3 linked regions of the Homo sapiens genome follow. The protein of the gene in region 3 purifies or fractionates together with the protein of the main gene of each other region. This does not show direct contact. Each region holds a gene or a part of one and is shown on either strand. Other genes may lie near its edges.

What was found.
Region 1: the proteins of LACC1 (region 3) and H3-7 purify together in Homo sapiens (affinity purification with mass spectrometry; 3 studies listed by BioGRID and IntAct, with this or other methods). This does not show direct contact.
Region 2: the proteins of LACC1 (region 3) and BRMS1L purify together in Homo sapiens (affinity purification with mass spectrometry; 3 studies listed by BioGRID and IntAct, with this or other methods). This does not show direct contact.

What each region holds. Positions count from the first base shown.
Region 1 is NC_000001.11:143,904,869-143,908,103, reverse strand, and holds H3-7 (histone H3-7), read left to right. Parts: upstream 1-2,126; 5' UTR 2,127-2,137; coding exon 2,138-2,548; 3' UTR 2,549-2,594; downstream 2,595-3,235. UniProt on the Homo sapiens protein: Core component of nucleosome. Nucleosomes wrap and compact DNA into chromatin, limiting DNA accessibility to the cellular machineries which require DNA as a template.
Region 2 is NC_000014.9:35,864,266-35,868,019, reverse strand, and holds part of BRMS1L (breast cancer metastasis-suppressor 1-like protein), read right to left. Parts: intron 3,086-3,754; coding exon 3,021-3,085; intron 2,299-3,020; coding exon 2,259-2,298; intron 136-2,258; coding exon of another isoform or gene 115-135; coding exon 1-114. UniProt on the Homo sapiens protein: Involved in the histone deacetylase (HDAC1)-dependent transcriptional repression activity. When overexpressed in lung cancer cell line that lacks p53/TP53 expression, inhibits cell growth.
Region 3 is NC_000013.11:43,877,728-43,881,481, forward strand, and holds the start of LACC1 (purine nucleoside phosphorylase LACC1), read left to right. Parts: upstream 1-2,176; 5' UTR 2,177-2,392; exon of another isoform or gene 2,393-2,525; intron 2,526-3,224; 5' UTR 3,225-3,258; coding exon 3,259-3,754. UniProt on the Homo sapiens protein: Purine nucleoside enzyme that catalyzes the phosphorolysis of adenosine, guanosine and inosine nucleosides, yielding D-ribose 1-phosphate and the respective free bases, adenine, guanine and hypoxanthine.

The sequences.
Region 1 (3,235 bases), on a different chromosome or scaffold from region 3:
TTTATTCTGAGAAATGATACCTATAGCCATTAAAGTCTGATTGAATGCCATTTTCTTATTTAAATGAACACATCCTACATTATGGTCAAGACTGCATACATCATAGAGAAAGTATATTGCAAAGAAAAGTGATGCTTGGGTGGGCTGCTTTGGGCTATCATCCAGATTCCATGGGGTAGTTTTCCCTTCTAATGGGAATAGTTGGGTGTAGATGTTTGAGAAATACTAGATGATGTGATTGCATGATGGGAAAACGCTTTTGTGCTTTAAACTGTGTTGGCTGGGTGTGTGGGGCTCATGCCTGTAACCCAAGCACTTTGGGAGGCCGAGGAGGGTGGATCACCTGAGGTCAGGAGTTCGAGACCAGCCTGACCAATATGGTGAAAACCTGTCTCTACTAAAAATACAAATAAATAAATAAATTAGCTGGGGGTGGTGGCTTGCGCCTATAGTCCCAGCTGCTCAGGAGGCTGAGACAGGAGAATTGCTTGAACACAGGAGGCGGAGGCTGCAGTGAGCAGAGATCCTACCACTGCACTCCAGCCTGGGTGACAGAGTGAGACTCCATCTCAAATGAAAAAAAAAAAAGGTATCCTCTAAGCCTAATGAAATAGAAAGTTTCATCATTACCGTTTCATTCTTTTGCTTTAGAATATTACACAGGCTTTGTTACTTACCCAGGACAAGCCATAATTTCTCTGAGACTCAGTTTTCTTATCTGTAAAGTGAGAAGAGTAAGATCTATTTCACAGAGTAGGGATTAAATGATAAAGTGTATGTAGAAGAACTTTAAACACTGAGTAGTGCCTGCTGTCTGTAAGGCATTATTACAAAACTACCACAGAGAGGGATAACATTTGTTCACATCAGTTACACTTTTGTACATTTTAGATCTCTCGAGAGGAGGATGCTTCTGCCCATGAGAGACTCTTGAAGATATTAATTAAGCTCACAGATTTCTACTTTGTGTTTAGTGTTCAGGAAGTCCCCTTGAAATCACTTTTACTTTACTTTGACTTCAGTAGGAAGATAGTTCATAATGACACCATCAAAGTAAGTTTTAAGCGTTTCGGGCCTGCTTTTCTCAGGTTTGAGTTTTTATAGTTTGTAATGATTTTTTTAGTAAAATAAGCATATGATTAAAAGTTTTATATTAACTACTACAACTTTTAAGTATCAGTTGCTTCTACATAACCACTATATTTACTGTTCTGAACAATACATACTTCAAAGCACATGAAATTGAAAAAGCAAAGCATCTTTACTCTCTTCATAGAGAACAGAAAAAAATATTAAACTTTTAAGCATTATAAAATACTTTATTGAATAAAATGTTAGCAAGTCAGCAATTGATGAATAATTTGCTTTGAAACTTTAACTTGTAATCTGGCTAATTAGCACTAATTTACAAACTATTCTACATTGTAAAGGAGAAATGAATTTCTGGTGTTGTCCTTCTTTGATTTAGAAGCTTAACATCTGCAGGACCTAATTGGCCATTGATGTGAGGGTGAGGAAGAAGGAACCACATCGCAGGGAGAAAAGACTAAAGGAAGGCAGAGGCTCTAATATCAGGTCAATATAGGTCAGCACACTACCCACATGAAATGGCTTTGGCTGGGTTCCAAGGTCAAGTAAATAAGATCAATTTTTTCATTCCTTCAATTACATATTTTTTTGCTAAGCTTCGGTCATTCATGGTATACAATGCATCTAACTTGCTGAGCAAAATGCTAGACATGAAATAAATGTTAGCTATGGTAGAAGAGCTTCAGTAACAGGTAACCTGAAACAGGCTGATAGCTCATAGAAGGGCATGCTTGAATTCGGGGAAAAAAAAAAATCTCTGTTAAAATGGGATGCAAAACACTTTATACATTGCTTTTACAAAAGTTAGACTAATTTAAAGGAAAGTCTTCAAAAGCAATCCGTGATCGATAAAATTACAGAAAAAAATCAGGAAAGGGGGAAATAATAAGGGAAGAAAGATTAGCAGAACAATCTTCCGCCCCAGTAAAGAGGACTGAATTTTAACCAATGAGATCACAAGTTTGAAAATTTCCTTTTCAGGCCCAATCAAGAGGAGGCTATGTCTATAAATACGACTGCCTAGACCCTCTCGTATCAATGAGACAGCATGGCCCGTACTAAGCAGACTGCCCGCAAGTCGACCGGCGGCAAGGCCCCGAGGAAGCAGCTGGCTACCAAAGCGGCCCGCAAGAGCGCGCCGGCCACGGGCGGGGTGAAGAAGCCGCACCGCTACCGGCCCGGCACCGTGGCTCTGCGGGAGATCCGGCGCTATCAGAAGTCTACGGAGCTGCTGATCCGCAAGCTGCCCTTCCAGCGGCTGGTACGCGAGATCGCGCAGGAGTTTAAGACGGACCTGCGCTTCCAGAGCTCGGCCGTGATGGCGCTGCAGGAGGCCAGAGAGGCCTACCTGGTGGGGCTGTTCGAAGACACGAACCTGTGCGCCATCCATGCCAAGCGCGTGACCATCATGCCCAAGGACATCCAGTTGGTCAGCCGCATCCGCGGGGAGCGGGCCTAAGGTATATTTTTAAGTGGTCGATCTAAAGGCTCTTTTCAGAGCCACTGCCGTTTTCATCAAGAGCAGCTGTACCGGCTCTCCATCTGATGTGCGTCTGCCTTGCGCAGCGGTCAGGGGCCAGGGGCACTCGTGGTGGGTGACGTTACAGAACCCAAAGCCCAGCCGTGAGTTGGCCGGCAGTAGAGAAAGCCGCAGAGGCATGGTCCTTGTGGTTCCGGCCGAGCCTTTTCACGCTGGTTTAAGGCTAGAGGTCCGGCTCCCAATTCTGTGGGTAAAGTTTTGCATGGGGGCAAGAGACTATGGGGAGTTTCTAGATGTGGAAGATCCTGAGTGTAAGGGTGGGGCGAGTCCCTTAAAAATTATAAACTCGTTTCCTGGTTTATTTAGGAACTATAAGCTTAATTAAAGCTCAGCATCTTCCTCATTGCATACTACAGGCGGTGTCCAAGCCAGAATAGTAATTTAAGCGGGCGGGAGTAAATATCTGGCGATTTTTAAAAATGTGTGGGTGAGGTAGTATTTCAAGGAAGAGAAAAAAATTTCCACAAAGTATAGAATAAAAATGCAAAAACGAGGCAAGAGAGTTAACTTGTCTAGCTGGCGTTAAGATTTCTTCCGTATGCAAGTCTAATGGAAAGTGAAAACCAAGAAAAAAACCTCAAGCCGTTGAAACTATCGCTTCACCTA
Region 2 (3,754 bases), on a different chromosome or scaffold from region 3:
CATCTTTTTTATCAATACATATTGTTTGTCCACGTATATACCATTCACCATCATAATATAGTCTTCCCTCTTCAGATCTAGCACTGTGCAGATGTTTTTCCAGTTTCACAGGTGCTAAAGGGATCAGTTCAAAAACTGTTATATTAATAAAACACTGTCAGAAGAACAAAGGGTCAGAACATTAACAATTAACATCAATCCATGCATATGTAAAAAAGGCCTAAAAATATTTCTTAAATAACAAACCTAAAATGTAATAAAAAGATTTATTCCTTACATTCTTTTACATAATCACTAAGTTTTTAATATAACTACTAAACAAAGCTAAACAATGAACAATAAATCATCAATTGACTAATTAAGTACCAGAAGGGGAAGCAGGTATGTTATCAATTACTAGTGTGAATTTTAAGTAGTATTTAAAATATCAATTGCCATATTTCAATTGAAAATTATACTTTTTATTTTTTCCCCTGCGGGCATCTGATATACCGAAAGAAGCAGAGTTTAATACATGTTCCAAGCATTCCCCAGGCTTTTAATTCTAAAAAGGAAATGTCCTAAGTACAACTTCTATTTTTAAATTCCAGAAATCATCTGGCATTAGTCAGATAACTCATACAGGAAAAAAAAATCTTTTTTATGGAAACACAGTGTCAAAAGCATACCATGAAGTCATTCAAATGTCAGCTCCTGAGAGGTCTTCCCTAACTACTCTACCCACTCCTCAGCTAATTGTTATATCAACTGCACAGTTCTTTTAGAGTAATTATTATAATCTGTAACTATCTTCTTAACTGTTTATCTACATATATATGATTCCACCTCCCCTAAAGAGGCTCCAGGAGATCCATATTTCTTTTACCATTGTATTCTCAGGGCCTAAAATACCATCGGGTATATTCATTCATTCATTCATTCATTCATTCAACAAATGTTGTCTGAACACTTCCTATACACAAGGAAGTATGCTGGGGAAAAAACTGTGACCAAAAGAGATATGGTTCTAGCCTTTGTGGAGCTTACAATCCAGTCAGGAGATAGACAAAATTAAAAAGTACAAATTGAGTGAAGTGCTATGAGTAAAACTAATAGGATACAATGCTGAAGATAAGAGTGGGAGGGAGACACACTCAACTATGATAATGAGATTCTCAAAAGGAATCTATTACCCAAAAATGTTAAGAACCACTGCTCTACAGGTCTAGGCAGCTGCTCTGGCAGTTAATTCCCCAGGGCAAATACTGCTGCAATTTCCTCACAAAATAAAAAGTTTAAAGGAATCATGGGGTTAAAAATAAAATGCAATTTTTTTTTTCTTAGAGATGGAATCCTGCTCTGTTGCCCAGTGTAGTGGTGTGATCATGGCTCACTGGAGCCTCGACCTCCAGGGCTCAGGTGATCCTCCCACCTCAGCCTCCCAAGAGGCTGAGACTACAAGTACACACCGCCAAGCCTGGCTAATTTTTGTATTTTTTTGTAGAGATGGGGTCTTGCCATCTTGCCCAGGCAGATCTCAAACTCCTGGGCTCAAGTGATCCTCCTGCCTTAGCGTCCCAAATTGCTGGGATCATGCTAGGCATGAGCCACCATGCCCAGCCTAAACAGAAATTGGTCTCTTATCGATTACTTAAGCTGTTTAAATGTGACTAGAAATTCCTTTCCTAAGTATTTCAAATATGTTTTTCTTTTTAGTCTAGCTTCATTGTCCTTAGAAGGATTAGGAAATCTCACCTATAGTGAAAGAAGGCAGAAACAGAGAAACTTATCCTAAACACCATCACATTTTGGCAGTGATTTTAGACTTCCAAAAAAAAAATCAAGGAAGTGTAACTTGATATGAATTTTACTAAGGCATATCAGCATTCTGATCTCTCTCCTCAGAAAATGCACATGCAGAATTTTGCACATAATTTCAGAGGATTCACAGAATCTCTGAAGCCAATCCACAAATTCCAAATACCTCCCCTATAGAATGACAGAGCCCATAAAAAACACTGCATAAATACTTTTTTGAGTTACTGATCCATTATTAGCAATAAGAATGTAGCTGAACACTGAAATAATTATACCACATTCAGAAATTTTGAAACTTTTACGTGAAGCAATGACTCCAGAAGAATTCCTCATAATTTCAGGCACGGTGTTCACTGATGAAATAAAACCACTGATTCAAGAGTTCTTTAGTACGTAGATAACAACCCTGATTCAACAAGTCTCCAAAGAGAATATTTCCCAACTCAGACTAAATGACTTACGTTCCGTTTTCACTCTGTGTGGCCCCAATGTAGCCATTGCCTTAATTAAAAAAAAAAAAAAAGAGGAAGAAAGAAGTCTGAGTTCAGACTGAAAATATATTTTGGTATCTATTTAATATATACAATATTACCGATTAACTCCATAACAAAGACAGTAAAGTATAACCATTAGCTGCTCTAACAAATTTTTAATGTCTAAGACCATAAAGAATATGAGGGATAACAATTTCTCCTAGAGGTGTTTTCAATACCTGAAATAATCTCTAATTCTCAACTAAGAAATTTACAAAAATGAAAAAATGTAATATGGAAAACAAGCCTCCACTTTCAGGCAAGAAAAGAAAAGCCTATGATTCTTGAATGTTTAATGATAGGATGCAAGACACATAAGGGTTCAAATGTTCTTTTGTTCAACAAATATTTATCAAGTGTTTTCTATAAGCCAGGACCAGCCAAAGGACTAGGCACAGATGGTGATGTTATTATTTTTGGGCAGACTAAATAAATGTTTTTTGGACTTTTCCATAAATTATTAGTTACATTATTATAGAAAAAATACAATCAAACTGCTGACATGTCTCTAACTCTTAAAATATCCTTGTAGTTCACTGCTATCTGTAATAGTATTAAATTGCCTTAGAAAAATGTTGCAAAAGCAAAGCATATTTACAATAATATTTTGATGTACTAACAAAAAAAACATAGAATCTTAAAAAGTAGACTATAAAAACATACTTGTGTTCCACTGCTCATTAATCATACCTTCCTAATTGTTGTCCAGTCTTCAAGAATATCAAGATCTTGTAGCATATAAACTATATATGGACGTTGAATAGTCAAGGTCAATTTAGCTGTAAGAATATCACACTTTGAATTATATTTCCAAAGTACTACATTTCAGAAAATGGAACGATGATTTATGAGCATAATGCTTTGGCATCCTAAATTCTGACTTCAAATTATTCTTCAAACCACTTAGTACCAGCATAAATACAGTCTAGTACTTCTGATGTCATAACTACATGCCCTTAATTCCATGATATCATTGATTGTAATATACATCACTAACACAATCACTGGTTTTTAAGGTGGAGGGGAAAAGATGGGGGTAGAGGGATGGTACCATAGAGAATGCCGAAACTGAATATACGTATTAATTTACACTCCAATTTTGGAAACATTTAAAAATGTTTTTAAAAAGTATACGAGGCTAGGCACAGTGGCTCATGCCTGCAATCCTAGCACTTTGGGAGGCCAATGCAGGCTTAAGCCCAGGAGTTCAAGACCAGCCTGGGCAACACGGCAAAACCCCATCTCTACAAAAAATACAAAAATTAGCCAGGCGAGTGGCACGTGCCTGTAGTCCCAGCTACTTGGGAGGCTAAGGTGGGAGGATCACCTGAGCCCGAGAGGTTGAGGCTAAGGTGAGCCATGATTGTGCCACTGCACTCCAGCCTAGGTGGCACAGTGAGACCCTGTCTCAAAAAGAAAAAAAA
Region 3 (3,754 bases):
TTTTATTTGAGTGGCTTGGGAATAGGGTGTTTTTATTTTTTCAAACTTAATTATGCATCTAACTCATACATAGAGGTTAAAACAAAACAAAAAAGCAAAGCAAAACATGCTCAGGCCTAACTCCTAGAGATTCTGATTCAATGTATATTTGGGATAGAGTCTCTACATTAATTATTTTTTTTTTCAGTTGCACTTGCAGTTCTGATTTGCAGCCAAGACTGAGAACCACTGGAGTAGGATAGAGTGAAAATGGGATGAGGAAGTGTTAGGACATGACACTAGGACCAGATGGTGAAAGGAAATGGTATGCAAATACAATATAACAAACTCTCTTCCCTGACAACTTCATTCTTTTGAAATATTTTCTTTTTCATTTTTTTTTTACTGCCACTACTTTTGCATGAAAGAATACGAATCCCACCATTGTAAAAACAGAGATAAATGTTTAAAACCTTTGTAACTAAAAGACCTCTGTTTTGCTTGAGGTATTAAGCTGGTGCAAAAGTAATTGTGGTCTTTGTCAATGGCAAAAACCGCAATTACCTTTGCACCAATCTAATGATATTTAACATAAACAAACTCAGGGCAGAGTGCACCTTCTGATTGGGTGTACCATCTACCGCTCGGGGCTCTTTAACAAATGACCAAAGAAAACATGAATTTTGACATAACTGGTGCTAGGGTTATTGAAGGGTGGGTTTCCATTCTGGGTTAGTGCTCCCAGTCTCTAGTCAAGCACAAGAACATGCCTACCCCAGAGGGCTCTTCCAAATTCCCAGCTATCTGAGATTATGAGACAAAGGTTCTTTAGCGCCTACCAAATGAGCAACAATGAAGATAAAAGGGACCTCTCCTTCCATCATAACCAGTTCCCCAGGAAGCACCATTTCTCTTACTCTTGGAAGGTCGGATATTTTTTCCCTTTACCATACACTGGCCTTCCATGTCCTAACTGCTATTTTCAAATAAATGAACGTTATATTCTTGGAGGACAGATCAGGGATGCTAAACTGCACCTTTATCATGATTTTAGGGATGAGCGCCTTTTACTTAAGTCCTGCTAGTGGCACATATTTTAAAAGGCCATAGAGGACATCCGTGTTGTCAACACAAGTGAAGGCGCTCGGAAGAGTGTTGGTCAGCAAGAATCAGCACAAAGACATTGGAGGAGAGACAACAGCTTGTTTCTGGAAACAAATGAACAACAAAAAAACACTAAAACATCTCGAGGGGGCCCCTGACTTGAGCCCTGCATGGGAAAAGCTGCCAAGAGCTAGCATGACAAGGGACTGGCCCTGGGCTGCGGTGAGGAAACCCAGCGTCCTGACCACACTGCTGGGTCAGCGAGGCGTCCCTCAGAGACCGGAAACGCGGACTTCAGCTCGCTTGGGAAACGGCTTCCATTAGCAGAAGGGAGACTGCGGTTTAGTCCCGAGGTCGCTCCAGCAGCCCGGCCTCACGCGACCCACCATTCCCGCCGCCCCCTCACGGTGCCCGCCGTTCCCGCCGCCCGGCTTTCTAACCGGGCCCCTAGTTCCCCGCCCCGTGCCCTCTGGAGACCTGCAGCTCCTGCCGCCCTGCGCCCGCTCCCAGGGCCCGTCGTTCCGCCGCCCTATCCCTCCTCAAGGGGCCCCTAGCTGCCTCCTCGCGACCCTTTCCGGACTCGGCCTGCCCACTCCTGCCCGCTAACCCGCCTGGCTCCCGGGCGAGAGCCCTCGCGCGGCTCTGGTTCCTGTTCCTCTAACGCCGCCGGGGCTGCGGGATGCCGACTCCGCGGACCGCCCAGACCCGGAACTGCTGAGGCAGCAGCGGGCTCGCGGCGCTTGGCTCATCCCGGGATTCCCCAGCTCTCGCGCTGGGCCCGCCGCGTTCGCACCAAGCACGCCAGGCGGCCCTGGCCTACCTCCCTCCCGCCTCCCGGCAGCTGGCACGAGGGAACCTGGCCGTCAGGTTTCCCCTGGGATCCTGGGACGGTATCAGGCGGGGAATCTGTGCGGCCGCGGCGAGGTAGGTGAGGTGAGGCGGGGCGAGGTGGGCGAGGGGGGCGAGGTGAGGCGGGGCGAGGCGGGGCGAGGCGAGGCGGGGCGAGGTGGGCGAGGTGGGCGAGGTGAGGCGGGGCGGGTGTCGTCGCGCTGGGCCGAGCTTACGACTCCAGCTGACCCGCTCGCGGCTGCCCAATTTCGTTGAGGCTCAGGACGAGGGACGGGGCGGCAAATTGTCACAGAGGTCGCCGTAGACCGGTGTGCAACCGAAGGTGAAGAGCGGGAAGGCGAGGACCGAATCGCCTCTGGTGTGCGTTGTCCGACAGGAAGTCCCGAATGGGCTGTGAGCCGCCGGTGGAGGTGCCCGGGCAGGTGCAGAGCCACAGCCTGCGCCCCGTGAGCCGAGGCGGGTAGGAGGAACAGGGACCTGGCGGCGACACACGTTGGGCGGAAATTCACAATGAACAGGGAAGGGGGGACGGTCACCCACTCAAAACTGGCTAAATGAACCTCAGAGGGAGCCCCGAGAGATGGGGAGCAAAGGTTAGGGGAAGCGGCAGGAGAAAACCTTCTTGGGGCAAAGGGCGTCACCAAAGGGGGTCACCGGAGCCCCGCAGGTTGGGGTGGGAGGGCTGGGCTGGAGGTGAGCAAAGCTGCACGGGGAGAATGAATTAAGAAAGTTGAGAGGAAGCCTGTCTCATCCAAATCACTATAGCTTTTGTGGTCATTGCTAAGTGTGGAGTACTGCGCAAATCCTGAAGGGAACTCTATTAGCCATCTCAGCTTTTATCATCTTAAAACGCGAATTTCGCGTGCAGCTCCATTTAGCTTCGTAAACTTAAGCCCCCGCATATGAAAGGATGAGACCTAATATGACAATCATGTCAGGACTAATGATATATCACACAGGTTGACACTCTGCAATTTAAAAACAGGACTTTGTCTAAACTCCACAAGTAATTCCTTACTCAAAAGTTCTGTGTAAACAAAACAGAGGAACTGTCGTGCTGCTGGAAAGATGTACCAGCATTTTCACAAAACGAATTAAAAGATGGCTTTGCTTTCACTGTCATGGTTCTGTTGTGACAGAGTAGACTGGCTTTTCTGGGAGGGGCCTAGATTTACTATTTTAGTTACATTTTAAAATCAGTGTAATTACTTCGTTTTTAATCTACCACAAATTTCTGTTGTAACTATAAGATTTATATAATCTTATATTCTTACACTAATTTTTATTTGCAGGTGATTTATTTGGCATAAAAGTATTCTTTCAAGGATGGCAGAAGCTGTTTTGATTGATCTTTTTGGTTTGAAATTGAACTCTCAAAAAAACTGCCATCAGACATTACTGAAGACTTTGAATGCTGTCCAATACCACCATGCTGCCAAGGCCAAGTTTCTCTGTATAATGTGTTGCAGTAACATCAGCTATGAAAGGGATGGAGAACAAGATAATTGTGAAATAGAAACAAGCAATGGATTATCAGCTCTCTTGGAAGAATTTGAGATTGTTAGCTGTCCCAGCATGGCTGCCACTTTGTATACCATTAAACAGAAAATTGATGAAAAAAATCTGAGCAGCATTAAGGTAATTGTACCCAGGCACAGGAAGACATTAATGAAAGCTTTTATTGATCAACTCTTCACTGATGTTTACAATTTTGAATTTGAAGATTTGCAAGTGACTTTTAGGGGAGGGCTTTTTAAACAGTCCATTGAAATAAACGTAATCACAGCTCAAGAACTAAGAGGAATTCAGAATGAAATAGAAA